Linked DNA regions of Homo sapiens. The protein of the gene in region 1 interacts with the protein of each later gene in a pairwise test. Each region holds a gene or a part of one and is shown in the gene's direction. Other genes may lie near its edges.

Evidence for each region.
Region 2: the proteins of RASSF2 (region 1) and RASSF3 interact in a two-hybrid assay, tested with the Homo sapiens proteins (one study listed by IntAct).
Region 3: the proteins of RASSF2 (region 1) and S100Z interact in binary tests that used the Homo sapiens proteins (3 or more experiments, as listed by UniProt).

Annotation. Positions count from the first base shown.
Region 1 is NC_000020.11:4,789,949-4,800,065, reverse strand, and holds part of RASSF2 (ras association domain-containing protein 2), read left to right. Parts: intron 1-1,980; coding exon 1,981-2,056; intron 2,057-4,099; coding exon 4,100-4,251; intron 4,252-7,438; coding exon 7,439-7,527; coding exon of another isoform or gene 7,528-7,533; intron 7,534-9,454; coding exon 9,455-9,615; intron 9,616-10,117. UniProt on the Homo sapiens protein: Potential tumor suppressor. Acts as a KRAS-specific effector protein. May promote apoptosis and cell cycle arrest. Stabilizes STK3/MST2 by protecting it from proteasomal degradation.
Region 2 is NC_000012.12:64,604,472-64,615,428, forward strand, and holds the start of RASSF3 (ras association domain-containing protein 3), read left to right. Parts: upstream 1-6,023; 5' UTR 6,024-6,161; coding exon 6,162-6,272; exon of another isoform or gene 6,273-6,375; coding exon of another isoform or gene 6,376-6,450; intron 6,451-10,957.
Region 3 is NC_000005.10:76,914,316-76,923,569, forward strand, and holds the end of S100Z (protein S100-Z), read left to right. Parts: intron 1-6,401; 3' UTR 6,402-7,335; downstream 7,336-9,254.

The DNA of each region.
Region 1 (10,117 bases):
ATCTCAGTTCATGGCAACCTCTGCCTCCTGGGTTCAAGTGATTCTCCTGCCTCAACCTCCCAGGTAGCTGGGATTACAGGCATGCGCCACCACACCCAGCTAATTTTTTAATTTTTAGTAGAGGTGGGCTTTCACCATGTTGGTCGGGCTGGTCTTGAACACCTGACCTCAGGTGATCCACCCGCCTTGGCCTCCCAAAGTGCTGGGATTACAGGCGTGAGCCACCACACCCAGCTGGGATTTCTCTATCTTAACGAAATATTTAATTTATCTGGGACTAAATTGTTGGAAGTCCTTAGGCACACTTGACACATGTTTTGTGACATCTGACCATTCTTATCTCTTTGTGGACAGATTTCCCCAGGGACTTCTACCAACCAATGATTTTCTCTCCCGGTTTCAGATCTGTGTGTTCAAAAGTACCAAACGGCCTTTTGTCTTAGGTGATTTCGAATCACATTTTCCACAAATTTATTTCAGCTTGCATAGAATCATGCTGCTTTATCTAGGTTTAACTTGTCAGGATTTTCTTGGCATTTCCAGTGGGTCTTGACTCCTGGCGTGGTCCAAAATCTCTCCACTGAATGGCTGGGTTCAGAGAGGCTGAACTCTGCCACCTCTTACTTGAGACTAGACAAAAGCGCACAGTGGCCCCCTCCACCTCTCGCCCCTCTCATCCCACCTGGAGTGCAAAACATGCACTTTCAGATGAAACTTGACTTGTGCATTCTCAGGGTTGATGAGGGATTTCCCTGATCACAAAGGGGGTGAAATCTCCTCTCTGGCCACGTGCAGTAGAGCTGTACTCCCAGTGCAGCCACTTGGAAAACTTGGTGGCTAAGGAGGTCCAGTGCTGGGCTTCAGAGGGGGAGTTTCTAAGGGTTTTTATTTTTTAATTTTTAGAACTGAAAAAGTATTGCCAGGGCCCAGAAGCCACCTCATGCCCACTTCTTGTCACTACTCCCCAAGGTGAACCACTATCCTGAATTCTAACACTCCATTTTGAACTTTCTGTCAATGGAATATGATCTGTGCTTTTTTGTGAAAGAAGCTAGACACAAGAAAAGCACATATCCTATAATTCCCATGAGTCACACACATGCGTGTAGTTGTGTAGTTCATTCACATTCTCTTCGCTGATAATTTTCCGTTGTGTGGCTATTGCTTCCTTTATGCACCCATTCTGATGCTGATGGGAGTTTGCAAGTTTTTTTTTTTTTGTTTGTTTGTTTGTTTTTTTGAGATGGAGTCTCAGTCTTTTGCCCAGGCTGGAGTGCAGTGGCGCGATCTCAGCTCACTGCAACCTCTGCCTCTGAGGTTTGGGTGATTCTCCTGCCTCAGCCTCCTGAGTAGCTGGGAATACAGGTGTGCACCACCACGCCTGGCTAATTTTTTGTATTTTTGTTAGAGATGGGGTTTCACCATGTTGGCCAGGCTGGTCTCAAACTCCTGACCTTAAGTGATCCGCTGGTCTTGGCCTCCCAAAGTACTGGGATTACAGGCATGAGCCACTGCGCGCAGCCAGCTTCTGAGTCTTGTGAAGGCCTATCATTATTGTCCTTTCCTCACTCACAGCGTGCTTGAGGGAGAAAAGGCCACAGCCATGCAGGAGAATCGCTGTGTGTGGGCTCTGAAGTGCTCGCCTCAGTGAATCCATGGCTTATTAACACCTGCTCATTCAGCTTGAGTTTGGGAGTATTGTCGGTAGACGAGGCCTGCCTTGGTGTCCTGGAGTTGCTCCTTACTTTAAGCATTGTTCTGGGGTGGTGCTCACTCTTGACTTTGATCCTGGGGGAAGATGGTTATGGGGTGGTGGTGGCAGAACTCTGTGTGCATGTGCATGTGTGTGTATGTACATGTGGACAGTTACCCAAAGTGGGGTGACTGAAGGCCAGGTGAGAGGTGAGAGAAAGAGGGAACAACTGCATTATAAGTGGCTTCAGCTGATAATGTTATATCTCTTCTATTTTTCCCCCTAAGAAATGAACTTCTCTTGCATCTGAAGACCTACAACTTGTACTATGAAGGCCAGAATTTACAGCTCCGGCACCGGGAGGTAAGGAGTCCCCAGGGACGGCCCTGATTGGCTAGTCCAGGGCTTGTCACCATGTGTCCTGGGTCTGAAGGTCCCTGAGGTCCCAAGAGAACCCTGCCTCTCCTGCTTCTTATTTAGGTTGCTAGTGAGAGTCCTTGGGGTTCTTTGGAAGAAGACTCCAGGCCCAGTTTTGTTCCAAAAAGGATGAATGTTTCAGAGATGTGTTCCAGAGACATTCCTGTAGAAATGTGGCAGGGCTAGCCCAGTCTCATGGGGGAGATTCTCCAGAGGGAGCTTTCATGAAATGACCTTTCCAGGTGGCTCCCAAGCAGACGTTCTCTCGTTGGGCAATTCGGGAACCCCACCCAGTCCTCTGTGTTTAAACATTTGGGCCCAAGTCCTATCACTGCAGTGACCTGGGCAAAGCACATAAGCTCTGGATGTTAGCAGAGTCCCCACTGATAGTGGGCCCGTCCCCACACTTGGTCATCCTAGGTTGCTTTTGTTACTCATCTGATTCCCATCCTGAAACTGAGCTTACTCATCCTGTATCCATTTCTCTAAAGCCTGTTATCAGATAGATGATGAGTTATAAAGGAGTCTGGTAGGGTACTTTATACTCAAGCGCCTGTGACTGATAAAAAGGTCCCTATGTGTAATGCCCTTTGAAACACATTTTCAGGTTATCAAGCTGTGGCGATTTAACCATAGAAACAGATAACAGATGGTGGAATTTCAGCTGCTAGGGCAGGTTGCTTGGGGACAGTATGTGGGATGTAGTGGCCTATTCTGTGTCCCTCAAACCACTCCACTTAGACAAAATCCTGTTTTGGGTTAAATTTTGACCTACAATTGTGTAAAGGAATGATGCCCACCTTGACCAGGGGAAGGCCATGTAAATTGCCTATGTTTACATAAAGCCTTCCTCCCTGAGACGCCTAAGCACCGTAAAATTGTTTCATTTCTCTCCTTCCCTCTTTTATTCCTTCCTCCCTCTTTGAGGATGATTTTGGGGCCCAAGTTAGTTAGTTGCTCAATGGGCTGATGTTATTTTCACCTATGGGGCTTGTCCTGAAGATGTGTTCCATGACCCAGATCTAACACTTGAATAGCCCATAAAACATGGCTCCAAAAAGGTTTTTCTGAGACTAGAGGGAGGAGAACCGATTCTTTTAGGAACTGCCCTTCAAGCTTTTACTAATCAGCAGCTGGGCCATGCAAGATTTTAGTTCTTAAATAGCTTTCCTGGGTTATGTCCTATAGAATAAATGATTAAAAGTGCTTCATGATTAAAGGATTTCATAGTCATAAGCGAGTCCCAATTCTTCGGGATAGAACATATAAATGCCTCTAGAATGGTTTTACATTTAATGTCTAATTAGTCAGCAACCTTTGAGTATAAATTGGGGACTCCTGCAAGATTTATTCACCTGTTGGAGAGTTGTCATTTAGCCCGTTAGTTTATTACAGAACCTGGGACATTCTGCTGTTTGGAAATCTGATTAGCACAGCCTCTCCCAGCTCATGATCACTTGACACCCTTTTAAAGACAGCAGTTCATCTGCTAGAGGAGCTAGTGTTCTGTAGAATAAACTTCGGCAAATGTTGCTTTAAATTTCCTTCAACCACCAGGTTGGATTGCTAAACAGATGTTGTAGCTAAAGAGACATCATTTTCCGTAGTAGGGGATGGGACGTAGCTAACTCCAGTTCTTGCTTCTGTTAACAAGGCTAATCTCACTTATTTTAAGAAATGTATTCCGCTTTCTTTAAAAGTCATTAGGATAAAAAGAAAAACAATGCTTTTTATAATTTATACCTATGTATTTGAATTTCACAGCAACTTTTGTGCTGACCTGTGAGGTCAGCTTCAGGATCTGGAGTAGTTGACGTCAGAAAGTATCTCAGAGCTGCGGTGTGAACTGGGCAGCTGCCCCTATCCTGTGAATACAGTCTGGGGGCCCCCAGCCAGGACATGTGAAGAATGTGTCATTTGTCCCTCAGCATGGTCTTGGCTTCTGTGGGGGCTTTTCTAGGCTCACTACTCTGATTGCTTTGTGGGCAGGAAGAAGACGAGTTCATTGTGGAGGGGCTCCTGAACATCTCCTGGGGCCTGCGCCGGCCCATTCGCCTGCAGATGCAGGATGACAACGAACGCATTCGACCCCCTCCATCCTCCTCCTCCTGGCACTCTGGCTGTAACCTGGGGGCTCAGGGGTGAGTGAGGAGAGACGGGGCAGGGAGATGACTGGGATGCTTGGGTGTTCTATGTGTTCTCAAGCAGATAAATGCTGCCTTCTTCCAGCCAGCCCTGACCCTGGCTCCTCCTCCTACTACCTCTACTGCCCACCTGCCTTAGCCTTGGAATGAGGAACAAGCAGCAGATGTGGTTGTGATTGAGCCCCCTTCCTGTCACTGCAATCACTGATGAGGTCACAGGAGGGGAGCTGCTGAGTCATACGAGGGGAGCTGCTGAGTCAGAGTCCTCCCTTAGGGAGAACTCAGGAGTCTCTGAGTGGAGCTGCTAGTGGCTAGTGAGGCCCAGCCTGTATATTTCTAACAGGGCGCCCCATGCCCCAGCACCCTCCCCACTGGGACCACTCCTCATAGAATAGCCCCACTCCAAAGCATTTATGACTTGAACCTTCTGACCAAAGCTCTCTGAATCTTGGGGGAACCTAGAAGAGGAAAAGGAATGTCAGGCTCTGTCAGAGTCAGCCAAGCGAGATCAGCCAGGGGTCTGCTCCCTGCAGACCATACGGGGAGCCAGGGTTTGGTGAGATGGTGGTAGTCTAAGTTCCCACCAGAAGGGCTGGGAAGACCTAGTCCATCCCTCCTTATCCTCCATGGCTGAATAAGCCGCCAAATGCGCCGCCAAATGCCTCTAGCAAGGCATGCCCTCTTTATTGTCTTTCTGGGACTTGAGTTTTAGGATCAAGTGACTAGCCTGTCTCCATCCTGAAACCTGCTGATGCTGACTGCCTTCGGCCCCAGCCTGGGTGGAGTGTGCTCGCCTCTCAGCCAAAACCACAGTGACCTTTTTTTCTGGTTTAAATGAAAACCAAGCCCTCTCTGTTGGCCACATTGAACATTTTGCTAAACTCCACAGCCAAATCTATGTTTCTCTACAATTGAGAGAAACCTACTATGTGGCCAGCCCTGGGGCTGGTCTGGTTTCTTTCCAAGGGGATTTAAGGAGGAAAATTGTTGCCCACCCCATAGGTGCTAGGATGTCTGGTTAAGGTTCTTTGGTTTCATCTAACTTTGCAGGTTTCATGCTCTGCTTTTCAGCACTATCACCATATTTTTGTTTTGTTTTGTTTGAGACAAGGTCTCACTCTGTTTCCCAGGCTGGAGTGCGGTGGCTTAATCACAGCTTACTGCAGCCTCAACCTCCTAGGCTCAAGTGATCCTCCCAACTCAGACTCCCCAGCAGCTGGGACTATAGGTGCACACCGCCCCACCCCGACCTTTTTTTTTTCTGTTGCCCAGGCTGGAGTGCAGTGATGCGATCTCGGCTCACTGCAACCTCTGCCTCTCGGGTTCAAGCGATTCGTGCCTCAGCCTCCTGAGTAGCTGGGATTACAGGTGCCCACCACCAAACCCAGCCATTTTTGTATTTTTTGGTAGAGAGGGGGTTTCATCATGTTGGCCAGGCTGGTCTTGAACTCATGACCTCAAGATATCCACCTTCCTTGACCTCCCAAAGTTCCGGGACCACAGGGGTGAGCCACCATACTGGCCCTACCTGGATAATTTTCATGTTTTTTGTAGAAATGGGGTCTCACTATGTTGCACAGGTTGGTCTCAAACTCCTGGCCTCAGGCAATCCTCCCACCTTGACTTCCCAACGTGCTGGGATTACAGGTGTGAGCCACCATGCCCAGCTGTACTTGTTACACTGTACTGTATTTGTTATACTATACTGTATTTGTTATACTATACTGTATTATTGCTGTATTTGACTGCCAATGGCCAAGCCCATTTCACAGCCTGACCCTGACCCCCAGACTATTCTATTCCCTAAGTGAGATGATTTTTAAGATTTCGTTTGAGCCTGTGGCCTTTGGTTTGGGCTGCTAAAGGGTCCTTCGGTCCGCCTGCTTCTTCTCCCTTCTCTGCGGCATCAAGCTGGTCCTGGCTGACTCTGCAAAATACTTTGGTAGAATTTTCAGGAATGGTAAATGGTGTCATTTAGATGTCAGCTATAATACAGTGAATGCCTAGACTGCTGTCTTAAGAAGGATCCTGAGGCTGTGCGTGGTGGATCGTGCCTATAATCCCAGCACTTCGGGAGGCTGAGGCGGGTGATCACTTGAGCTCAGGAATTCAAGACCAGCCTGGGCAACATGGTGAAACCCTGTCTCTACAAAAAAATAAAATAAAAAAAAAAAATAAGGATGCTGAGACCGGTTCCTGCTTCAGCAAGAATGAAGGCTTTAAATCAGGGAGTGGGAGTCGCTGCTCTGGGTGCCAAGTGTTCACCATTCCCCAGAAGCTCTGACCAGGTCCATTCTGTGGTTCAGAAGTATATGAGTTAAATTACAATAGGAAGTTCTTTCAGATTTTCCATTTTAATTGTCCTTCCTTAAAACGATCCTCCCCAGAACATGAGGTTTATCTCTACTGGGTCCCAGGGAGCCCATGCTCTTCTCACCATGGGTTGTTCCTAATTGGTCAAATATGATTCTCCTTTCTAGCCAAATCCTCTGTTGATTTTGGATGTTTTTCTGAGCTGCTCCCTTTGTCCTTTTTGGCTTTGAGAAGTTATTTGCCAGTTATGATGGCAAACCAGGGTCTCAGCTTGGACTGCCTGCTTGTAACCCTTTCTTCAGCTTGGATGAGGACTCCATCCTTGCAACGCTGAGAACACTGTCAGTGTCCCTTCCAAAGCTGCCCCTGCCCTTGTTGTGGCCAACTTATTACTTTCCATTCCTTTTGAATGCCAGAAGCAATTATGAGTTATTTCTTCAACAGCAATGAGTCTAAACTGGAATCTTACCCTGCAAAACGAATGGCCACTATTAGAGTTTTCCAAGTAAGCCATAGAATCCATACATGCTTAGAAGCAGTGCAGGCAACACGTGGGTTTTGTTCCTTGGTATTATCCATCCTGGGCTTGATGAATTGGTTGGGTGTGTTACTGCAGTTGCTGCAAAAGAACATCTTCTCCCTCCGGAACTCCCCCTGCCCCACCCACTGCTTGACCTGGGAGCTGGGCCAGCCTTTCACGGGATGCTCCGCGCAGCCCATCTGCACCCTTCATCACCTGATGTGTGCCAGTACCCAGCCTGGCACTAGCAAAGTGCTCCCCTTTCAGGAGTGGGGTCCAGCGGGTGCGGGGGCGTCTCTCCACAGGGCTTAAACTAGTCTCCCCCCTCCCCTTTGTCTTCTCCACTCCCAGAACCACTCTGAAGCCCCTGACTGTGCCCAAAGTTCAGATCTCAGAGGTGGATGCCCCGCCGGAGGGTGACCAGATGCCAAGCTCCACAGGTACATGTGAGTGGAAGGTACTTCCAGCTAGGGACCAACTGTGTGAAGACCGCTGTGATAGATGTTGTAAACTGTTATTTATTTTTGAGAATATAAAATGTATATGGTTCAAGATACAAAGGGAGAGAATTAAGTCACCCACCTCATCCACCCACCTAGAAGCATCCCGAGAACATCCTTCGTGGGATAGTCCATGCAAATATAAGCAAAACACACTGACATGTCTTTATGGGTGGATGTAGTTTCTTTCCCCCTCCCCTCCCCTCCCCTCCCCTCCCCTCCTCTCCCCTTCCCTTCCCTTCCCATCTCCCTCTGTCACTCAGGAGGATGCAGTGCAGTAGTGCAATCTTGGCTCTGCTTCCTGGGTTCAAGTGATCCTCCCACCTCTGCCTCCTGAGTAGCTGGGATTAAAGGCATGGGCCACCATGCCCAGCTAATTTTTGTATTTCTAGTGCTGATGGGTTTTTGCCATGTTGGCCAGGCTGGTCTTGAACTCCTGGCTTCAAGTGATCTGCCCGCCTCAGCCTCCCAAAATGCTGGGATTATAGGCATGAGCCACCGCGCCTGGTTGGATGTAGTTTCTTTTCTTCCCCTAGTTATACAAGTGGTAGCATTGTGCAGATCCCAGTTTTTATTTATCAGTTTATCTGGGGGAATGTTTCCATATACATTTGTAAAGAACTTCCTTATTCTTTACAGCTCTGCATTCTTTCACTGTATGGAAAAAGGATAATTTATGTAATCACTCCCTACTGGTAGACATTTAAGTCATTTTCAGCCTCTGCTATGACAAACGAGTTTGCAGTCGGCGGCCTTATACATGTGTCACGTCACACATTTGTCAGCGTGTAGGATTCTTTCAAGTGGACTTTCTGGGTTTAAGGCCATATGCATTTTTAATTTTCATAGATATTGTCAGTTTGCAAAATCTTTTTTATATTACGTGGATTAAATATATTTTAATAAGAGCAGATTAACCTACTTGTGATTAATGTCAGTATTGTATATTTATACACATACAAGGATAGACATATGCCATGGGAACCCCACATATTTTTAGATACATGTTCTGTTAAACATTATTTTTTCTAATTTTTTATTGTGGTAAGATATACATAACATAACGTTTACCATCTTAACCATGTTAAGTGGTACAGTTCAGTGGTATTAAAAGCACTCATAATGTTGCGCAACCATCACCACCATCCATCTCCAGAACTCTTTCCATCTTGTGAAACTGAAACTCTGTACCCATTAAACTCCCAATAGCTCCCCACATCCTTCTCTCTTTAGCTCCTGGCAACCACCATTCTACTCTCTGTCTCTGTAATTTTGTATGTACCTAGAATGTACTTACAGTGTACCTCAATTATATGTGGTACACTTATATGAGGTACACTCTAAGTATCTCATATAAGTGGAATCATTCAGTATTTGCTGTTTTGTAATTGGCTTGTTGCACTTAGCATAATGTCATCAAGGTTCATCCGTGGGTAGCATGTGTCAGAGTTTGTTTGCAGTATCTTGTTAGCTCTTATATCATGCTTATCCTGTGCCAGGCACTATTCTAAGTGCTTTATGTATACTAACTCATTTAAACCCTCAGCAACCCTCTGAGGTGGGTGTTATTATTATCCCTATTTTATATATAAAAGCACCGAGGCACAGAGAGGTTAGTGATATATGGCAATCATGGAGCAGGGATTTGAACCCAGGGAGTCCGGCTCTGAAGTCTGTTCTCTGAACTTTTCCTTGTATAGGTTCTCTGTAAATTCTGCATTATGTTTTTCCCCCAGCAGAAAATATTATTTGTATAAAATATATATTTGTGGAGACAGTGGGTGCTGTCGCACTGGCCACAAATTGGGGACCATGTGCCATGTCCCAGGTCCAGACAGACAGAGTTCATTTCCCTCTCCTCTCTCAGACTCCAGGGGCCTGAAGCCCCTGCAGGAGGACACCCCACAGCTGATGCGCACACGCAGTGATGTTGGGGTGCGTCGCCGTGGCAATGTGAGGACGCCTAGTGACCAGCGGCGAATCAGACGCCACCGCTTCTCCATCAACGGCCATTTCTACAACCATAAGGTAAGGTGGACAGGGGGACGGGGAGGGTGGAAGACCTCTTCCTGGGTAGATGCCACCTCAGGGCTACAGCCATATGGTGGGTGGTGTGGATGCCTGGGAAGCCAAGTGTTTGCTGCTGTTTAGTCTTTGGGTTGTGGGTGGGCTGCAAGCCCTGCTGGCTTCCTGAGGGCTGAGGGACCCCAGGTCAGAAGCCTCAAAGTCCCCCTGTGGGTTCCCCTTAAGGTGGTGGGTGAATTCAGTGGGGCTGTACAAAGCAGTCCCTGCTGTAGCCTTGAAGACCCCATAAACGCAGCTCATCAGTCTCTCCCAAGAAAATCCACGTGTTACCCTCTTCCTGCACACTGTGCCCCCAGCTGGTGTATGGTCTGGCTTTTCCCAGAGCTGAAGCAGAGCTGCAGGTCTCAGACCTGGGGTGTCAGTGCACCACCCACCCCACCCCATCTTGCTGATCCCTCCTTTCCTCCTGCTTTGTTCAAATCCTACCCCCGGAGGCAATACATGG
Region 2 (10,957 bases), on another chromosome or scaffold:
TTTCAGTTATTATACCATTTATTCCTGTCATTGCCATGAACAAAATGGAAGCAACCAGGGTGATAGTTGCAGCCAATAGGCACTGACCAAAGAGAACAGCCGCTGATTGTATCGGTTCAACTATTAAGAGCCTGTCCTCCAGCTACCAGGCTGATGTAACCAACTCTTTTTTTTTTTTTCTTTTGAGATGGAGTCTTGCTGTGTCGCCCAGGCTGGAGTGCAGTGGCGCGATCTCGGCTCACTGCAAGCTCCGCCTCCCGGGTTCACGTCATTCTCCTGCCTCAGCCTCCCGAGTAGCTGGGACTACAGGCGCCCGCCACCGTGCCCAGCTAATTTTTTGTATTTTTAGTACAGACGGGGTTTCACCGTGGTCTCGATCTCCTGACCTTGTGATCCGCCCGCCTCGGCCTCCCAAAGTGCCGGGATTACAGGCGTGAGCCACCGTGCCCGGCCATGTAACCAACTCCTATCATCTTTGAGTTTGTCATATATTTTTTTTTTAATTTATTTTATTTTATTTTTATTTTTTTTTTAGGCAGAGCCTTGCTCTGTTGCCCAGGCTGTAGTACAGTGGTGCCATCTCGGCTCACTGCAACCTCCACCTCCCTGGTTCAAGTGATTCTTCTGCCTCAGCCTCCTGAGTAGCTGGGATTGCAGGCACCCACCACATTCAGCTAATTTTTGTATTTTTTTTAGTAGAGATGGGGTATCACCATGTTGGCCGGGCTGGTCTTGAACTCCTGACCTCAGGTGATCTGCCTGCCTCAGCCTCCCAAAGTGCTGGGATTACAGGTGTGAGCCACCACACCCAGCCTGTCAGAATTTTTGAGAGAAATTTTAGAACATATTTTTTTTCCTTTTTAAAGCCAATTTAAATACCTCTGCTATGGGTTGCTTTTTTTTTTAAGGTAAGAAAATGAACTTTCTAAATTATCTTCAGGGGAACAACTTAGCAATCATTTAAAAACTCTTACTTCTTTTTCTATCTGTCTCTACTGATTCTACCAATGTCAATGGAGGAGAACAGAACGTGGCAGAAATATTATGAGAGATATGACTATTCCAGCAGGAACAAAATGATGGGAATATAGGATGATAACAGGTCAACTCAACTGGCTTAAACAAGGCAGTATCTAGGCCGGGCGTGGTGGCTCACGCCTGTAATTCCAGCACTTTGGGAGGCTGAGGCAGGTGGATCAACTGAGGTTGGGAGTTCAAGACCAGCCTGACCAAGATGGAGAAACCCCATCTCTACTAAAAATACAAAATTAGCCAGGGTAGTGGCGCATGCCTGTAATCCTAGCTACTCGGGAGGCTGAGGCAGGAGAATCGCTTGAACCCGGGAGGTGGAGGTTGCGGTGAGCCGAGATTGCACCATTGCACTCCAGCCTGGTAAAAAGAGCGAAACTCCGTCTCAAAAAAAAAAAAAAAAAAAAAGCAGCGAGATAATATCTTATGTCACATAACAAGAAGTCCTAATTAGGGTGGTGTCAAACCTGGTTAATCAAAGAGCTATGAAGTCTTTGTATTGTTCTGCTTTGCCATGGTGTCTATTTTGTCCACAATATGGCTACAGAATTCCTAGGTACCATATGCAAGCATGCAAGATCCAGAGGAAGAAGACATAGTCTTTTTTTGTAGGTTTCTTTTAAAAGTGAGGAACATCTTCCTAAAAGGCACCAAGCCAGGTTTCCTTCTGGTCTCAGTGGTCAGGTCTGTGAGACCTGTCCATGCCTAAAGCAATCCCTGGCAAGGGGAATGGGACCACTACGACTGACTCTGCACGTCAGGCCTTACCCCTGTGAGCTGAGATTGGACTTCTTTTCCCGAGGGGATTCTTGAATTAAAGTCCTTGTTTAGTTAACAAGAAAGAAGTGAGTGATGAATGTTAAGTATGCAATAAGGTCTAATATTTGGGGCAAGAAAGATGAATATTTGCTTGATCCTATTCTATGCCAAGGACTTTGCCTGGATTCTTTCACTTAATCCTTACAGTAAACCAAAGAAAATAAAATGAAGACATTGTCATCCCCATTTTGCTGCTGATGAACCTGAGGCATAGAGAAGTTAATTAAATTGTTAAAGGTCACATAAGAGTCAGTGATAGCCAAGGCAGGCAGATCACCTGAGGTCAGGAGTTTGAGACCAGCCTGGCCAACATGGTGAAACCCTGTCTCTACTAAAAATACAAAAATTGGCCGGGTGAGGCGGTGCGTGCCTGTAATCCTAGCTACTCGGGAGGCTGAGGCGGGAGGATCGCTTGAACCCGGGAGGCAGAGGTTGCAGTGAGCTGAGATCATAGCACTGCACTCCAGCCTGGGTGACAGAGTGAGACTGCGTCTCAAAAAAACAAAACAAAACTTGAACTTGGTTGCATACATTTAATTTTATTTATTCCACCCCCTTCCCTGAATTTGAAATGTTAAAAGTGTCTAGTTGCTTAACATGACATTTTGAATTTTTACAGATACAATTTTCATGAGCTAAATTTTAAATTCACAATATTTTAATTAAAAATGCTACCAGGCTAGGCATGGTGGCTCACACCTGTAATCCCAGCCTTTTTGGAGGCCGAGGTGGGAGGATCACTTGAGCCTAAGAGTTCATCAAGACCAGCCTGGGCAACATAGTGAGATCTTGTCTCTACAAAAAAAATATAAAAATTAGCCAGGCCTGGTGGCATATGCCTGTAGTCCCAGCTACTCGGGAGGCTGAGGTGGGAGGATTGCTTGAGCTTGGGAAGTCGAGGCTGCAGTGAGCCAACATGGCACCACTGCACTCCAGCAACAAAGTGAGGCCCTGTCTCAAAAAAAAAAAAAGCTACCAGAAAAATATGCAAATATCATTATGCTGCTTTTAGGAAACAAAATCACAATTCTTCCTTCCTTTATTTATTTATTTATTTATTTATTTTCTGAGGCAGAGTCTCCCTGTGTCGCCCAGGATAGAGTGCAGTGGCGTGATCTTGGCTCACTGCAACCTCTGCCTCCAGGGCTCAGGTGACTCTCCTGCCTCAGCCTCCCGAATAGCTGGGACAACAGGCATGTGCCATCATGCCCAGCTAATTTTTTTATATATTTTCAGTAGAGATGGGGGTTTCACCATGTTGGTCAGGCTGGTCTTGAACTCCTGACCTCAAGTGATCTGCCGGCCTCAGCCTCCCAAAATGCTGGCATTACAGGCGTGAGCCACCTCACTCGGCCCTTTCCTTTATTTATGTTTTTTTTGTTGCTTAAAAGCAGTGCTTCCATTTCATTATTTGATCATGGCTTTTAAAATTATTTTATTTATTTATTTTTTTAAGAGACAGACTCTTACTCTGTTACCCAGGCTAGAGTGCAGTGGTAAGATCATAGTTCATTACAGCCTCAAACTTCTGGGCTCAAGTGATCCTTCCACCTAGCCTCCTGAGTAGCTGGGACCACTAGCATGTGACACCACATTGGCTAATTTTTTTTTGTTTTTTGTTTTTGTTTTTGTAGAGACAGGGTCTCATTTTGTTGCCCAGGCTGGTCTTGAACTCCTGGCTTCAAGCAATCCTCCCACCTCGGCCTTCCAAAGTGCTGGGATTACAGGCGTAAACCACCATGCCTGGCCTAATCATGCCTTTATAAAAAAATCATTTTTTTTTAGAGAAAAGGTCTCACTATGTTGGTCAGGCTGGATAGGAACTCCTGAGTTCAAGTGATCCTCCACCTCAGCTTCCCCCTGTGCCCCACTCAATCATGCCTTTTTATTATAACTGATTCTGATGGTATGCTGACAGATATACAAATTAATCCAGTCCTTTGGAGCTTAAAAATAATACAATGAAAAAAATCATTTTTATGGTGTGGTGCATCATAAAGTTTATTTATTTATTTATTGAGACGAAGTTTTGCTCTTGTCGCCCAGACTGGAGTGCAATGGCGCCACCTCGGGTCACTGCAACCTAGGCCACTCCGGGTTCAAGCGATTCTCCTGCCTCAGCCTCCCGAGTAGCTGGCGCACGCTACCACGCCCAACTAATTTTTGTAGTTTTAGTAGAGGCGGGGTTTCACCACGTTGGCCAGGCTGGTTTCCAACTCCTGACCTCAAGTGATCCACCCGCCTCTGCCTCCTCAGGCGTGAGCCATCGCGCCCGGCCAATAAAGCATTTTAATGCATTTTTCCTCAAAGTATTCATAAACTTCAACTTGTTCTAGGTAAAATTATTTTCCCCTTTCTACCCACAATAAAATGAGTAATTTAAGCCCTTAACCTACACATTATTCTTACCTTGGAATATTTAATAAGAGCTGCGCTAATATTATATCTGAATAATGAAATAAGAGAAACCAAATAAGAAAAATTTGTCATAAAGCCCTATTCTCCTACATTAGATTATGTGCATGGCACACACACGGATCAGCTTAAGCTGGGTGAAACTATATGGAGTTAGAATTCCTGGCTTCCTATCATTCAGTAGCTGTGTGGCCGAGAAGAAGACTTTAATGTTGTAGGACCTTTAAAATGGGCTGTAACTCAAAGGCCCTCCTTCTGGAGTTGTTGTGAATCACGTGGGGTAATATATACTAGTTTACAAGATGGATGTGTAAGCCCGAAGGTGGAGCAGGTTTGCAAGCCTTCTTTCAGCCTAGGGACAGTAGGATGACTCATGAGTCAATTCTTCTCTCCTTCCCGTCATTTCGGGTCCAACTCTTCCTCCTGTAGTCCACAAAAGAGCACGGCTGACCGATACCAAGCAGAGAACCCAGTAGGGTATGTGACCACGTTCAGATCAACAGAACGCAAAGCAGAACGGTCCGAGTACTGCCTCCTACAGCCACTTTCCTTTCTTTAAGCCTCAGCTGCTGCTCTAGGTGTAAAACCGGCATAAAATAGCACTACGTACCTTGCAGAGTTGCTCGGAGGATTGAAGGAGATAATGTAAGAGAGTTTGGCTAGTTTGGCTATGATGGATGGACATTTTCTCTTTTCTAACGTCTCTCTTCCCCTCCTAATGAAACCTCTTCTGAAGCTCGCTAACTATAGCAGGGCTTGCAGCTTCAAAAAAACCTTTCAGTCAAGATCTTGAAATTAGTATTATTTAAATCAGTGCAGTAACACCAAGGTGTAAAAGACTGTTACCCACTGGTGGCTTTAAGAGGATTAGCTGACTGAAGAGTTTTAGAAAACATGGAAACTTTTTTTGTACGTGGATGGATGGAATTCCCTGATCTCCTTATCCCCACCACTTAAACCATGCCTTGTGGGTGACCGTGGAAGGCTGATTGTGGCGGGGACATTTACAAAGCACATTTAATTGATAAGCACTCGATTGTTCTGTAACTATAGAACTAGTTCACCTTTCAGTTGCACTGAGTGCGCCTAAGATAACGATCTTATTTGGAAGTGAGCCCTCGCTAGAAAGAAGGGGAAAAGGGTAAGACCGAAGCTCAAATGAATGACCAGAAAGGATGTTTTCATTCGAATAAACTCAACCCAGTTTTTGACCTCCCCACCCATCTCTGCCAACTTGAAATCCTCCTGGAGGGGCGAGCTGCTGGGGTTCAGGACTGGGCGTTGCGGCTGCAGGAAGCCGTGGGACCTGGGGGGTCCCTCGGCCGGGCAACCCCCACCCACCCCTACAGGACCCTGGTGCGGGGGCGAGCAGGGAGTGGACGCAGAGAAAGTTCCCCGCTCTGCTCCCGCCCTCTCCGAAACTCGAGCCAGCGAGGCTGGGGGCGGGCGGACGGCTCGCAGAGGAATTTGCAGTTTCCGGGAGGTTGAGGAAGCGACCCGAGCACAGCCCCAGCAGACGCAGCCCTAGCGCCCGGCTTTCCGGGTTCCGCGACGCTGTCGGGAGAAACCCGCGCGCCTGGAAGGGGCGGGCCGGGCTCCCCCCACCTGCGGGCGGGCGGGGAGGGTCGCGGCCGCGCGGGGTGGGGCTCGGCCGGTCGCCCGTCCGGGGCGGGGCCCAGGGAGGCGGGGTCGCGGGCGCACCGGGGCCGAGCCGCGCCTGGAGCCTGGCGGGGAGGCGGCAGGAGGGGCCGGGAGAGCCTGATTGAGCGGCGGCCGCAGCTGCATAAGGACTGCCCGGGGCTGCGCGCCGGGAACCTCGCGGGGCTGGCGGGCGCCGCACCCCCTCCCTGGCCGCCTGCGCCCCGGGGAGGCCGCCCGCGCGCGACGGGACCGGCAGCATGAGCAGCGGCTACAGCAGCCTGGAGGAGGACGCCGAGGACTTCTTCTTCACCGCCAGGACCTCCTTCTTCAGGAGAGCGCCCCAGGGCAAGCCCCGCTCCGGCCAACAAGTGAGTGGCGCGCGGCGGGCGCTGCAGCCCGCGCCCCAGAGTTCCGGGGAACCCGCCAGCCCGCGCCCCCTGCCTCCACGTGTCTCTGCGGGGCGCTCGGGGGATGCTCGCCGGGAAGGAGGAGCGGGCCGAGAAGTGGCTTCTGCCTTTTCGGGTCCCGGGAACGTGCCTGGAGCTTGTGCGTGTAGGCGAGGGAAGGCGGAGGAAGGGCGGGGAGGCTGAGGGCCGGCTTCTGCCTTCCGCGCCAGATGGCCTCTGCAGCTCCGCCTCGGGCTGCCGCCTGCGGGGAGCAGCCCCGGAGCCAGCAGGCGTCCCCGGGCCACTCCCCCAGGTTTCCCCTTCGCGTCCCCGCTGGGTCGACGGTCGGGTTCGCGCGCCTGTCCTTCCTGTTAGTCAGCTTACTCATCTGTGGCCCCCAGAGTGGCTTGGGTCAACGTGTAATAGCTAGGGGTGGCCGGGTGACCTGACCTCCCCTCTTCCTGGCCCGGGCGACCTGGTGGAGTGGGGGTCCAAGGGCACCGTGGGCCTCGCCACCATAGGCTCTCACTAAATCTCCGTTGCGGGACTCAGGGTTGTGCGTTTTCTGTAAAGCTAGGTTTTTTGGTGCCCAGATGTTTTGCAAACAAGCTCCTATGCTAAATACTAGCCAGCGACAGCTAACCTTTTCGCCGGTTTCTTCCTTTTTTGGAGGCAGCATGCCGTGGGAAGCACGAGTTGGGAAAAGATGGGAAGGGAACTTGTGCCAGTTTCGCCAGCTGTAGCCGTGTTTTTTGGGAGGCCTTCCCGAAACGGGGCACGTCGGCTGGACTGAGGAGCCCGGTGCTAGAGCCCGCGGCCTCCTGGCACTAGGAGCCGCACCAGGGGAGCCGGGCCAACCCGGCCACGCTCACATCAGATTACAGAAGATTGTAATGGCACAAATTTGTTGCTTTTAGAAAACAGGCGTTCGCCAAACATTTCTATTAATACCGGACTGAGACCTAGAGACTAGAAGCAAGAAGAATCGTTCAGGGGCCGGATGATAACTTCTTTTGGTGGATGTGGGAGGGTGCAATCTGTCAGGGTGGTCTTGCCAGACCTCTTAAGTTTAGCCACTTTCTGAAGTAAAATTCTTTCTAAAATTCGGAAGTTCTAGTCTTTTCAGGCTCTTAAGTCCCAAACCAGGAGGAGGAGAGGAGACGGTGAAGGGTAAGCTGAAGTCAAGTGCCCTTATTCAGTAACCGCAGTTAATCTCAAGTCCCGGTGCCATAGTTGTCCGTCTTGTATTGTTTCTAAGGCTTAAGGCCCCACTATTTACGAGTCACTTTGAGTGGGATCTCTTACTTTCAGCAGAGTGTGTTCTGAGAGCATGAGATTGCTGTGAAGTTTGGAAGTTGGAAACGCCCTCTCCTCCCCCATGCCCACCCTCCCTGGGTTGTAGAAAAATTGCATTTGCTTATGCTTTTTCCATTTTTGCTTTCTCTTTCTTGGCCTCTCTCTTCCCCTTCTCCGTTTTGCATTTTCTCCTTTCATTTATGTTGCTTTCACCACTTGACATGAAAAGGAACTCATGGTAGTTTGAAGTTTATTCCAGAGGTGTCTGCTAATCTCCTGAAAACTGGCTGGTTCTTGGATTCTCCAGGGGTGAGATGCCACAAGGGCCAAACTATTCAGGTTTGAATTGTATGAGAATCCTTTAGTGCTTTAAAGAGTAAAGACATCAGTTTTTTTCTAGGTTTATATGCATTTAGCGTTTCTTTTTTTTTTTTTTTTTTTGAGATGGAGTCTCACTGTGTTACCCAGGCTGGAGTGCAGTCGTGTGATCTCACTGCAACCTCAGCTTCCCTGGTTCAAGCGATTCCCTTGCCTCAGCTTCCCGAGTAGCTGAGATTACAGGCATGCACCACCACATCTGGCTCATTTTTGTATTTTTAGTAGAGATGGGATTTAACCATGTTGGCCAGGCTGGTCTCGAACTCCTGGCCTCAGGTAATCTGCCCGCCTTGGCCTCCCAAAGTGCAGGGATTACAGATGTGAGCCACCGCCCCCGGCACATTTATTGTTTCTATGTTGTATGCAATCATTTATGTATCATCTAGCATATATATTATACTCAGGGTAGTATTATTTAGCATTTAGAATTAGTCTAACATTAATATGTATTTTGAAATATCGTGTTGGAAATCAGGACAGGAAGACATAGTTCGTGGTTGAAGAGCTTCATATGTGTATTTGAAGCTTTATTGCCTGCATATTTTTCCCTTCTAACATAACACATGTAAGGTGCTGAGTTGTAGAAGTTATTTGCCAGGCAGAGAAAGTGTTCTAAACTACGAATTTTAGTGAGCATTGTGGTTTATTTAAAGAAGTGATATGAATGTTTTAAATTCCTGGTAAGATTGGTGAATTAGGGAAGTAAAACATCATAAATATAAAGCAAAACACTCTTAATGTAGAATGTTCCTTTTATCTAACGTTAGATAAGCCTTTTTCTTCATTTTCATGCTGATGATTATAAGAATAAGATAAGCACTTCTGACATACATCATAGTAGTGAAATTTATCCTTTCTCTAGAGAGATGGAAAGAGAGGTATTGCTAGAAGGATCTATTAGAGATACAGTGATTTTTTTTTTTTTTGGATGCTGTACCACCTGGTGGAAAAGTGAGAAAAATGAGGTTTCTAGATTTCTTGAAAATATCCGGAGAAAACAAGATGTTTGTGGTAAATGCAGAATGGGGAGAAAGGGGTGAGGGAGCGGGTGGACTGGAAATTTCTTTCTTCTCTTGCCAGGCAAGGGAACATAGTGCAACTTCTTTCTATCCCCAACAGTAACAAAAACCTTATAAAGAAAATGTTTTCATTTTTTTTCTTACTTTAAACCCCATTCTTAACAACAAGAACAACAACAAAAATGGAAAAGGGTTAAAAAACCTGTCTAGGCCACGTGTGGTAGCTCATGCCTGTAATTCCAGCACTTTGGGAGGCTGAGATGGGAGGATTGCTTGAGCCCAGGAGTTTGAGACCAGCCTGGACAACATGGTGAAACCCTGTCTCTACAAAAAAAATGCAAAAATTAGTCAGGCATGGTGGTGCTCGCCTGTAGTCCCAGCTACTCGGGAGACTGAGGTGGGAGCATTGCTTAAGGCCGGGAGGCAGAGGTTGCAGTGAGCTGTGATCGCACCACTGCACTCCAGCCTGGGCAACAGAGCGAGACCCTGTCTCAAAAACAAAACTGTCTAAAAGATATAAAGGGAACGAACATATGACGTTTTGTGGCAGTTTGAATGTCATGTTTATTGTATCCGCAGGGTCTCGATCAGTACCTGATATACAGTAGTTGCTCAGTGAATGCAAGCTGAATGAATGAATGTTTTCCTGATTTGATAGTAACTGGGTCTTTACCATTTCTTTTTTTTTTTTTTTTTGAGATGGAGTTTCACTCTTGTTGCCCAGGCTGGAGTGCAATGGCGTGATCTCGGCTCACTGCAACCTCCGTCTCCCGCGTGCAAACGATTCTCCTGCCTCAGCCTCCCGAGTAGCTGGGATCACAGGCACCTGCCACCATATCCAGCTAAATTTTGTAGTAGAGACGGGGTCTCACCATGTTGGCCAGGCTGGTCTTGAATTCCTGACCTCAGGTGATCTGCCCGCCTCGGCCTCCCAAAGTGCTGGGATTACAGGCGTGAGCCACCGCACCTGGCCCCTGATCTTTACCATTTTCAAATGTACTGTATCTTATGGTGCTCCCAAAAACTGTATGAAACATTAACTTAATGAAAGGGGGAGGTATTATTTAGTGATTGTATAAGGCCCACACCTAGATAGCAAGAAGGCTGGAACTCAGGTTTTCAGACTCAAATTACACTCTCTATTTTGTTACTTTTTAGCTATAAAAATAATTTTATGGCTCCATATTCCCTTTGCAAATAAGGACACCTAAAATTTAAGAGTTTCTTAAAATTTCTTTTCTTTTCTTTTTTTTTTTTTTTTGAGATAGATTCTTACTGTGTCACCCAGACTGGAGTGCAGTGGCAGGATCTTGGCTCACTGCAACCTCCATCTCCCAGGATCAATTGATTCTCATACCTCAGCCTCCTGAGTAGTTGGGATTACAGGCACCCGCTGCCAGGCCTGGCTTTTTTTTTTGTATTTTAGTCTAGATGGGGTTTTGCCATGTTGGCCAGGCTGGTCTTGAACTTCTGACCTTAAGTGATCTGCCCTCCTTGGCCTCCCAAAGTGCTGGGATTATAGGCATGAGCCACCGCGCCTGGCTGTTTCTTAAAATTTCAACTCCCTGACCTGCATATAGTCATGACAGTGTTTATAATTTGTATTTGTGGATTCACGTATTTGTGGATTCGCTGTGTTTCAAAGGATCCACCTAATCATTGTTTTCAGCAAAACCAAAAATGTGGACAGTTGTGTAATTTATTATTTGCCTTCTTGATTTCCCACCAAAATCAAACTACCTGTAAATACAGGACACATTCAGATTTCCAAAGAATAGAAATGGTCTAAAGTTATAATCTGTCAGAGTGTGTCTTACCTCTTAGCTAAGCTACCTCTCCTCCTGAGCCTTTGGTAGTTCATGGGAATAAGGAAATGAGACAGTATTTTTGCTTTAGAAGTAGGGTAGTCAAGAAGTCTTGAGAAACGTGAAATTGTCTTCTGAACAACCCACACTTTAAAAAAAATTGCGCTGA
Region 3 (9,254 bases), on another chromosome or scaffold:
CTAGCTAAAGGATTGTAAATGCACCAATCAGAGCTCTGTGTCTAGCTAAAAGGTTTGTAAACACACCAATCAGCACTCTGTAAAATGGACCAATCAGCTCTCTGTAAAATGGACCAATCAGCAGGATGTGGGTGGGGCCAAATAAGGGAATAAAAGCTGGCCACCCAAGTCAGCAGTGGCAACCCGCTCAGGTCCCCTTCCATGCTGTGGAAGCTTTGTTCTTTCACTCTTCGCAATAAATCTTGCTGCTGCTCACTCTTTGGGTCCGCACTAACTTCATGAGTTGTCACACTTACCGTGAAGGTCTGCAGCTTCACTCCTGAAGCCACTGAGACCATGGACCCACCAGGAGGAAAAAGCAACTCCAGACGTGCCACCTTTAAGAGCTGTAACACTCACCGCGAAGGTCTGCAGCTTCACTCCTGAAGCCAGCGAGACCACAAACCCACTGGAAGGAACAAACAACTCCTGACGCACCACCTTTAAGAGCTGTAACCCTCACAGTGAAGGTCTGAAGCTTCACTCCTGAAGTCAGCGAGACCACGAACCCACCAGAAGGAAGAAACTCCGGATACATCTGAACATCTGAAGGAACAAACTCCGGACCATCTTTAAGAACTGTAACACTCACCGCAAGGGTCTGTGGCTTTGTTCTTGAAGTCAGCAAGACCAAGAATCCACTGGAAGGAATCAATTCCGGACACATAAGGCCGGGCACGGTGGCTCACGCCTGCAATCCCAGCACTTTGGGAGGTCGAGGCAGGTGGATCACGAGGTTAGGAGATCAAGACCATCCTGGCTAACACAGTGAAACCCCGTCTCTACTGAAAATACAAAAACATTAGCCGAGCATGGTGGCAGTCACCTGTAGTCCCAGCTACTCGGGAGGCTGAGGCAGGAGAATGCGTAAACCTGGGAGGCGGAGCTTGCAGTGAGCTGAGATTGTGCCACTGTACTCCAGCCTGGGTGACAGAGTGAGACTCCATCTCAAAAAAAAAAAAAAAAATGCTGGGCGTGATGGCTCACACCTGTAATCCCAGCACTTTGGGAGGCCGAGGCGGGCAGACCACCAGGTCAGGAGATCAAGACCATCCTGGCCAACATGGTGAAACCCCCTCTCCACTAAAAAAAATACAAAAAAAATTAGCCAGGCATGGGGGTGAGCGTCTGTAGTCCTGGCTACTCCGGAGGCTAAGGCAGGAGAATGGCGTGAACCCGGGAGGTGGAGCTTGCAATGAGCCGAGATCACACCACTGCACTCCAGCCTGGGCAACAGAGCGAGACTCCGTCTCAAAGAAAATAAATAAATAAAAAATAAAAATAAATAAATAAATAAAAAAGATAAAGTGGTAGGCTTAAGCCCAAACATATCAATAGTTACATTAAATGTAAATGGTTTAACTATAAAAATTAAAATACAGTAACTAGCATAATGGATTAAAAACATGCCCTAATTATATGTTCTCTACAAGAAACTCACATCAAATACAATAACGTATGTTGAAAGTAAAAGGACAAAAAATTACACAAGCATTAATTTAAAATGTTATGTTAACATTAGATAAGTGGACTTCAGAGCAAACAAAATTACCTAACCCTAGCACTTTCGGAGGCCAAGGCAGGCAGATCATGAGGTTAGGATCAAGACCAGTCAGGCCAACATGGTGAAACCTCGTCTCTACTAAAAATACAAAAATTAGCTGGGCGTGGAGGTACACACTTGTAATCCCAGCTACCTGGGAGGCTGAGGCAGGAGAATCGCTTGAACCCAGGAGGTGGAGGTTGCAGTGAGCCGAGATTGTGCCACTGCACTCCAGCCTGGGAGACAGAGTGAGACTCCATCTCAAAAAAAAAAAAAAAAAAATTACCAGAGATGGTGAAGTACATTACTAATAATAAAAGTATAAATCTACCACAAAGGCATAGCAATCCTAATTATATATGTACCAAATAACAGAACTACAAAATATGTAAAGCAAAAACTGATAGTATTGAAAAGAGAAACAGACAAATCCACAATTACAATTGAAGACTGCAACATCCTTCTCTCAACAATTGATAGAAAAGCTAGACAGAAAATCAGCAAGGACATAGAAGAAATAACATGACCATCAATTAACAGGATTGAACTGACTTTTGTGAAACACTCAACAACAGGCCACACATTATTTTCATGTGCCCACAGTACATATACCAAGACAGACCATGTCCTAGGCCAAAAAAAAAAAAAAAAACCTTGAAAAATTAATACCCATTGAAATCCTAAGAGTGTGTTTTCTGACTACAGTGGAAACAAACTAGAAACCAATAACAGAAAGATAACATGAAAATTTTTAAACACTTGCAAACTAAACACACTTGTAAATAATACTTGGGTCAAAAAGAGGGTCTTAAGGAAAATTAAAAACACATTCAACTAAATAAAAATGTAAAGACGATATATCAAAATTTGTAAGATACTGCTAAAGAAGTCTTGAGAGGCAAAGTTATAGCATGAAATCCCTGCATTAGAAAAGAGGATATTTCAAGGCTGGGAGCAGTGGCTCACATCTTTAATCCCAATACTTTGTGAGGCCAAGGCAGGTGGATCATGTGAGGTTAGGAGTTCGAGACCAGCCTGGCCAACATAGTTAAACCCCATCTCTACTAAAAATACAAAAAGGAGCTGGATATGGTGGCAGGTGACTGCAGTCCCAGCTACTTGGGAGGCTGAGGCAGGAGAATGGCTTGAACCCAGGAGGCGGAGGTTGCAGTGAGCTGAGATTGCACCACTGCCCTCCAGCCTAGGTGACAGAGTGAGACTGTCTCAAAAAAAAAAAAAAAAAAAAAGGATATTTCAAAAAGTTGTATGAAAAGAAGAAAAAAGGAAGGTCTCAAGTCTGTATTTCTCATAACTACATGTGAATCTATAATTGTTTCAAAATAAGTTTATAATTATGTATTAACATACATATTTCAATCATTTAATAGAGCTTCAAAACATAAAATGTGAGATTTCCAGTTTGACTTTTTTGTAGCATGCTTCCATATACTATTCATAGATAGTCACAATAATTCTGAATGACAGGCCTTGTTGGTATTACTGACATTGCTAGGCTGCCTAGGTGTGAGGTGGTACTTACACAGTTTCATGATCACACACAAGTTTAAGAATGTCAGAAAAGAGACTGAAGTAGCCATTCAGCTATATGGTTTTCCAGAGGGAAAGCTTGGGTCAAAAATCAGAAATTGGCCTGGCACAGTGGTTCACACCTCTAATCCCAGCACTTTTGGGAAGTGGTTGGATCACTTGAGGCCAGGGGTTCGAGACCAGCCTGGCCAACATGGCGAAACCCCATCTCTATTGAAAACACAAAAATTAGCTGGATGTAGTGGCACATGCCTGTAATCCCAGCTACAAGGGAGGCTGAGGCACAAGAATCACTTGAACCCAGAAAGTGGAGGTTGCAGTAAACCGAGATAACACCACTGTACTCCAGCCTGGGTGACCGAGCAAGACTGTCTCAAAAAAAAAAAAAAAAATCAGAAATTGAATACCAAGGTCAAAATTGGTATTGAACCTCAATGCCCAATATTTTTATGTCAAAGTGCCAGTTTCCTGTAGGTGGACGTCTAGTTGGTTTCTTGCTTTTTGCTCTTACAAATAGTTCTACAATGACAATCTTTAAATATATATCTGTGTAGTCTTTAGGGTATCTATCTGTAGGTTAATTCCTACAATTGGACTTGTGGTCAAAGGTATACGTATTTAAAATTTTGATTGATAACGTCAATTTTCTATCTAAAAACCTTATACCAATTTGTACCTCCATACCTCTATGCACGTGTTGTTTTTCCACACATTTACTAACATTAGATATTATCCAACTTTATTTTTTGTCGTTAGAATAGGGTTTTTACTTTGTTTTTGAGACAGAATCTGGCTCTGTCACCCAGGCTTGAGTGCAGTGGTACAATCTCAGCTCGCTGCAACTTCTGCCTCCCGGGCTCAAGTGATCCTCCCACCTCAGCCTTCTGAGTAGCTGAGACTACAGGTGCGTGCCACTATGCCTGGCTAACATTTGCATTATTTGTAGAGACAGGGTTTTGCCATGTTGTTCATGCTGGTCTCAAACTCCTGAGCTCAAGCAGTCCTCCCGTCTTGGCCTCCCAAAGTGCTGGGATTACAGGAGTGAGCTACTGTGCCCAGTAGAATAAGGGTTTTAATTTGCTTTTGAAAAAATAGACTTTAGAGTAGTTTTAGGTTCATGTAAAGTTTAGTGGATACACAGAGTGCTCCCATGTTATACCTGCCTCCAGATGTGCACCGACTTCCCCATTATCAACATCTCCCACCACAGTGGTATATTTGTTACAATAGAACCTACGTTGACACATCATTATTACCCAGTGTCTGTAGTTTACACTAGGTTTCATTCTTAGTGTTGTACATTCTATGGGTTTTGACAAATGCATAGTGACACGTATCCACTGTTACAGTATGATACACAATACCTTCACTGCCCTAAAAATCCTCTGTACTCTATCTATTCAACATTCCCTCCCACTTGTCCCTGGCAATCACCAATCCCTTTACTCTTTCCATTGTTTTGTCTTTTTCATAATGTCATATAATTGGAGTTATATGGTACCTAGCCTTTTCAGATTGCCTTCTCTCACTTAATACACATTTAAGTTTTCTTCGTGGCTTTTCATGGCTTGATAGCTTATTTTTTTGAAAGCTGATGAATATTCCATTGTCTGGATATTCCACAGTTCATTTATCTAATTACCCACTGAAGAACATATTGCTTGCTTCCAAGGTTTGCCAATTATGAATAAAGTTGCTATAAACAGTCATGTGCAGGTTTTATGTGGATATAAGTTTTTAACTCATTTAGGTAAATATCAAGGGACACAACTACTGGATTGGATAGTAAGAGCATGTTCAGTTTTGTGAGAAACCACCAAATTGTCTTCCAAAGTGGCAGTGCCATTTTGCATTGCCACCAGCAATGAATGAGAGCCCCTGTTGCTCCACATCCATGGCAGCATTTGGTGTTATCAGTGTTTTGGATTTTGGCCATTCTAATAAGTATGCAGCTGTATCTCACTATTGTTTTAATTTGCAATTTCCTAATGACATATTTTGTGGAGGATCTTTTTATATACTTGCCATCTTTGTATCTTCTTTGGTGAGGTATCTGTTCAGGTCTTCTCTTCTTCTCCCTTCCTCCCTCCCTCCCTCCCTCCCTCCCTTCCTTCCTTCCTTTCTCTCTCTCTCTCTTTCTCTCTCCCTCTCTTTCTTTTTCTCTTCCTTTTTTTTTTTTTAAAGAGATGCAGGTCTCATTTTGTCACCCAGGCTGTAGGGTAGTGATCATATTTCACTGCTGCCTCAAATTCCTGGGTTCAAGCAATCCTCCCACCTCAGCCTCCCGAGTAGCTGGGACTACAAGTGCATGCCACCATACTGGCTAAAATTCTTTTTTTGTAGAGATGAGATCTCATCATCCTTCCCAGGCTGGTCTTAAACTCCTGGGCTCAAGTGATCCTTCTGCCTCAGCTTCCCACAGTGCTGGGATTACAGGTGTGAACCACCATGCCCAGCTTTCATTTTTTTTTTTTTTTTTTTGAGACAGAGCCTCACTCTGTAGCCCAGGCTGGAGTGCAGTGGTCCAATCTTGGCTCACTGCAACCTCCGCCTCCCGAGTTCAAGCAGTTCCCCCTGCCTCAGCTTCCCAAGTAGCTGGGATTACAGGTGCCCACCACCATGCCTGGCTAATTTTTGTATTTTTAGTAGAGATGGGGTTTCACCATGTTGGCCAGACTGGTCTCGAACTCCTGACCTCAGTTTATCTGCTCCCTTGGCCTCCCAAAATGCTGGGATTACAGGCATGAGCCACCACGCCCGGCTCAGCCTTCATTTTTTAAATTGGGTGGTTTGTTTTCTTATTGTTGAGTTTAAAAGTTCTTTGCATATTTTGGATAAGTCCTTTACCAGGTGTGATTTGCCATTTAAAATTCATGAAATGTGTTGGAGTAACTTTTTTATATGTTTACTGGCCATTTATGGCTCTTTTTTGTGAAGTGCACATTTTCTTGCAATTGGCATTAGCTGAATCCACTGCTAAGACTTCTCCCCACTTGGGCTTTCATGCATAGCATAATGGTATACACAATGCTTCGTCGGAATTTACCTGACTTAGAAAGAACATGCCTGCCCACCTTCCACAAGAAGCTGTACATCTGACTGTAATGGAGCGCTCCTCACTCTCCTCAATGCAGAGCAGAAATAGTCACAGCAGAGTGGTAGATAAACTTATAGTAAATGTGTCCAATTTAAATGTTACCATCATCAGCAGGAAACATACTACACAGCCATTGGCTGGATTTCAAGTGACTGTGTGGGTCTTTGATTTCAGGAAGTTCGTGAATGCTAATCAAGGGCTAAATAAAGTGGAAAGCAGCATCCTTGAAAATCATCGCTCTCAGGACGGGGTCTGCCTGGAATAGCACTGAATGTGTTTAGTAGTGCCTTTGGCTTGGGGGCTTTGGAGAAAGCTGCTTGAGCCCTTCCCATGCTCATAAATTAGGTAAGGAGCAGTGAGGAAGTGTCTACAGCAACCTCAGCCAATGTGATGTGCCTCTACAGCTGTATGAAGTAGATTCTCTGATTTTATCTTGAAATCCACAACTTCCACAAAAAAGAAAAATCTTTTACCATTTCTCATTAAAAAAGTAATATAAGTTTATTGTAGGGGGAAATAATCAAATGTAATCTCATTACCCAGATATAATCACTGTTAACTTCTTCATTCGAATTTTCCCTAGGTCCATGTATCTATATATCTATGGTTCATAAAAATGAGATTACACCAAAAAATATCTTTTGTTATCTATATAGTTCCAGCTTAATAAATATACAACTGTATTATTATTTTTGTCTGAATAGTATTTTCATTGATATATCACAATATATTTACTCCAATTCCCTATTGCATATAGATTATTTCTAATTTTTCTATTAATAATACTAAGGGAGCTTTTAAGTCAATACATCTGAATCTTGAATAAAATTCTTGTTCCTTCTCTTTGGATGGGTATTCAGACTCTTAATTTTACAAATGAAGAAATAAAGTCCCAGAAGGTAACAGAGATAGAACTAGGCACGATTTTCTATTCTTCTTTCCTTCCTTTCTTTGTGAGAGTTAACGATTATTTAAAAGTATTCATAATTTTCTGATAATAAAAGTAAGACATGGCATTATGACACTGGATATTCAAAAACCACGATGTCCTTTTACTTGAAGATTTTAAAAGGAAATGATTACAATAAATACCCAGAGTCAACAATTATCAAGTTTCTGTCATATTTGCTTCATCTATCTCTTTCCTTTGAAAGCGAATCCTAGGCCGGGTGCAGTGGCTAACGCCTGTAATCCTAGCACTTTGGGAGGTCGAGGTGGGCGGATCACTTGAGGTCAGGAGTTAGAAACCAGCTTGGCCATCATGGTGAAACCCCAACTCTACTAAAAATACAAAAAATTAGCTGGGCATGGCGGTGCACGCCTGTATTCCCAGCTACTTGGGAGGCTGAGGCGGGAGAATTGTTTGAACTCAGGAGGCAGAGGTTGCAGTGAGCTGAGATCATGCCACCGCACTCCAGCCTGGGCAACAGAGTGAGAGACTGTCTCAAAAAAAAAAAAAAAGAAAAAAGAAAGCAAATCCTAGGTACCATTTCATTTTATCCCTACATGTTCAGATATGCTGTTAGGGCTCAAAAGTGATACCCCAAAGACTGTGCTTTGACATGCTGAGAGGCCTTAGAAGCTGCCTCAGAATCAAGGTTCCCCTAACCTTGTCTTGTCTCCACCCCCTCCCAAGCATAGGGAGAGACTCTCTCTGGAATTTCCTTGTCTAACCAAGAAAGCTTTTTTCCAAAAGAAATGCAATTTTTCTTAGGATCCCCTCCCTAGGGGGTCTCAGCAAATAACCAGGAAAGATCACTCACCAGAGAAGAGAAGATGTTGGAAGTCATCACCATGCCCAGACAGACTTTTCTTCTATTCTTCTGAAGGAAGCTTCAAGAGATTACCTGGGAAACTTAATCTGCAAAATAAGATGACCTTTGTTCCTGTGCAGTTCTGCCCATCACCTTCCCATAATGTCTCCCTCCCACCTCCCAGGTTCATACATCTCTTCCCATAAAGAGAGTTTTTTTGTTGTTGTTTGTTTGTTTGTTTGTTTTTGAGATAGAGTCTTGCTCCGTTGCCCAAGCTGAAGTGCAGTGGCACGATCGGCTGACTGCAAGCTCCGCCTCCTGGGTTCATGCCATTCTCCTGCCTCAGCCTCCCGAGTAGCTGGGACTACAGGCACCCGCTACCACGCCCGGCTAATTTTTTGTATTTTTAGTAGAGATGGGGTTTCACCGTGTCAGCCAGGATGGTCTTGATCTCCTGACCTCGTGATCTGCCCGCCTCGGCCTCCCAAAGTGCTGGGATTACTGGCATGAGCCACCATGCCTAGCCAAAGAGAGTATTTAAGCAACCATCTAGCCCCTCTTAGAATTCACATTTTGTATGAATCCCATGCACATATATGCATCTTAATAAAATTTGTATGCCTTTTTTCCCAATAATCTGCCTTTTGTCAGCTGAGTTTTAGCAAGCCTTCAGAAGACAAAGGGGAAGTTTTCCCTTTGCCCCTACAATGCCTATGTAAAAAAAAAAAAAATGGGCTTCTAAAAAAACACAATACCATATCACACCTAATAATTTAATAATTCCGTGACATCATCTAATATGCAGTTCAAAATGAAATTTCCATGACTATCTCAAAACATCTCTTTTTACATTGGGTTTGTTTGAATCAGGAACAAAACAAGGCCCACAGATTACATTTGGTTCTTAAGGCTCCTAAATCTATATCAATCCTCAGCAGTCTTTTGTAATTTCCCCCCATGCCTATGTTGTAGAAACCAGGTAGCCCTGTGGAAAGCTTCATATTCTGGATTTGCCCATTTATTCCCATGTTATTTAATTGTTTCCTCTATCACCTATATCTCCATCAGTGAAGGTAGCTCTAGAGCCTGGATTAGAGTCAAGTTGGACTCCTGTTAAGAGTATTTCACAGGTGGTGCTGTGCAGTCAGTATTGCATTAGGAGCTATCTAATGCCTAGTTGCCCACTTTTAGAGTATAGTGGGCCCAGTGCTATGCCACCCCAATGGGGGAGGGCAGGCTAGAGGGGTGGGAGGGCAATACCAAGACAAATGCA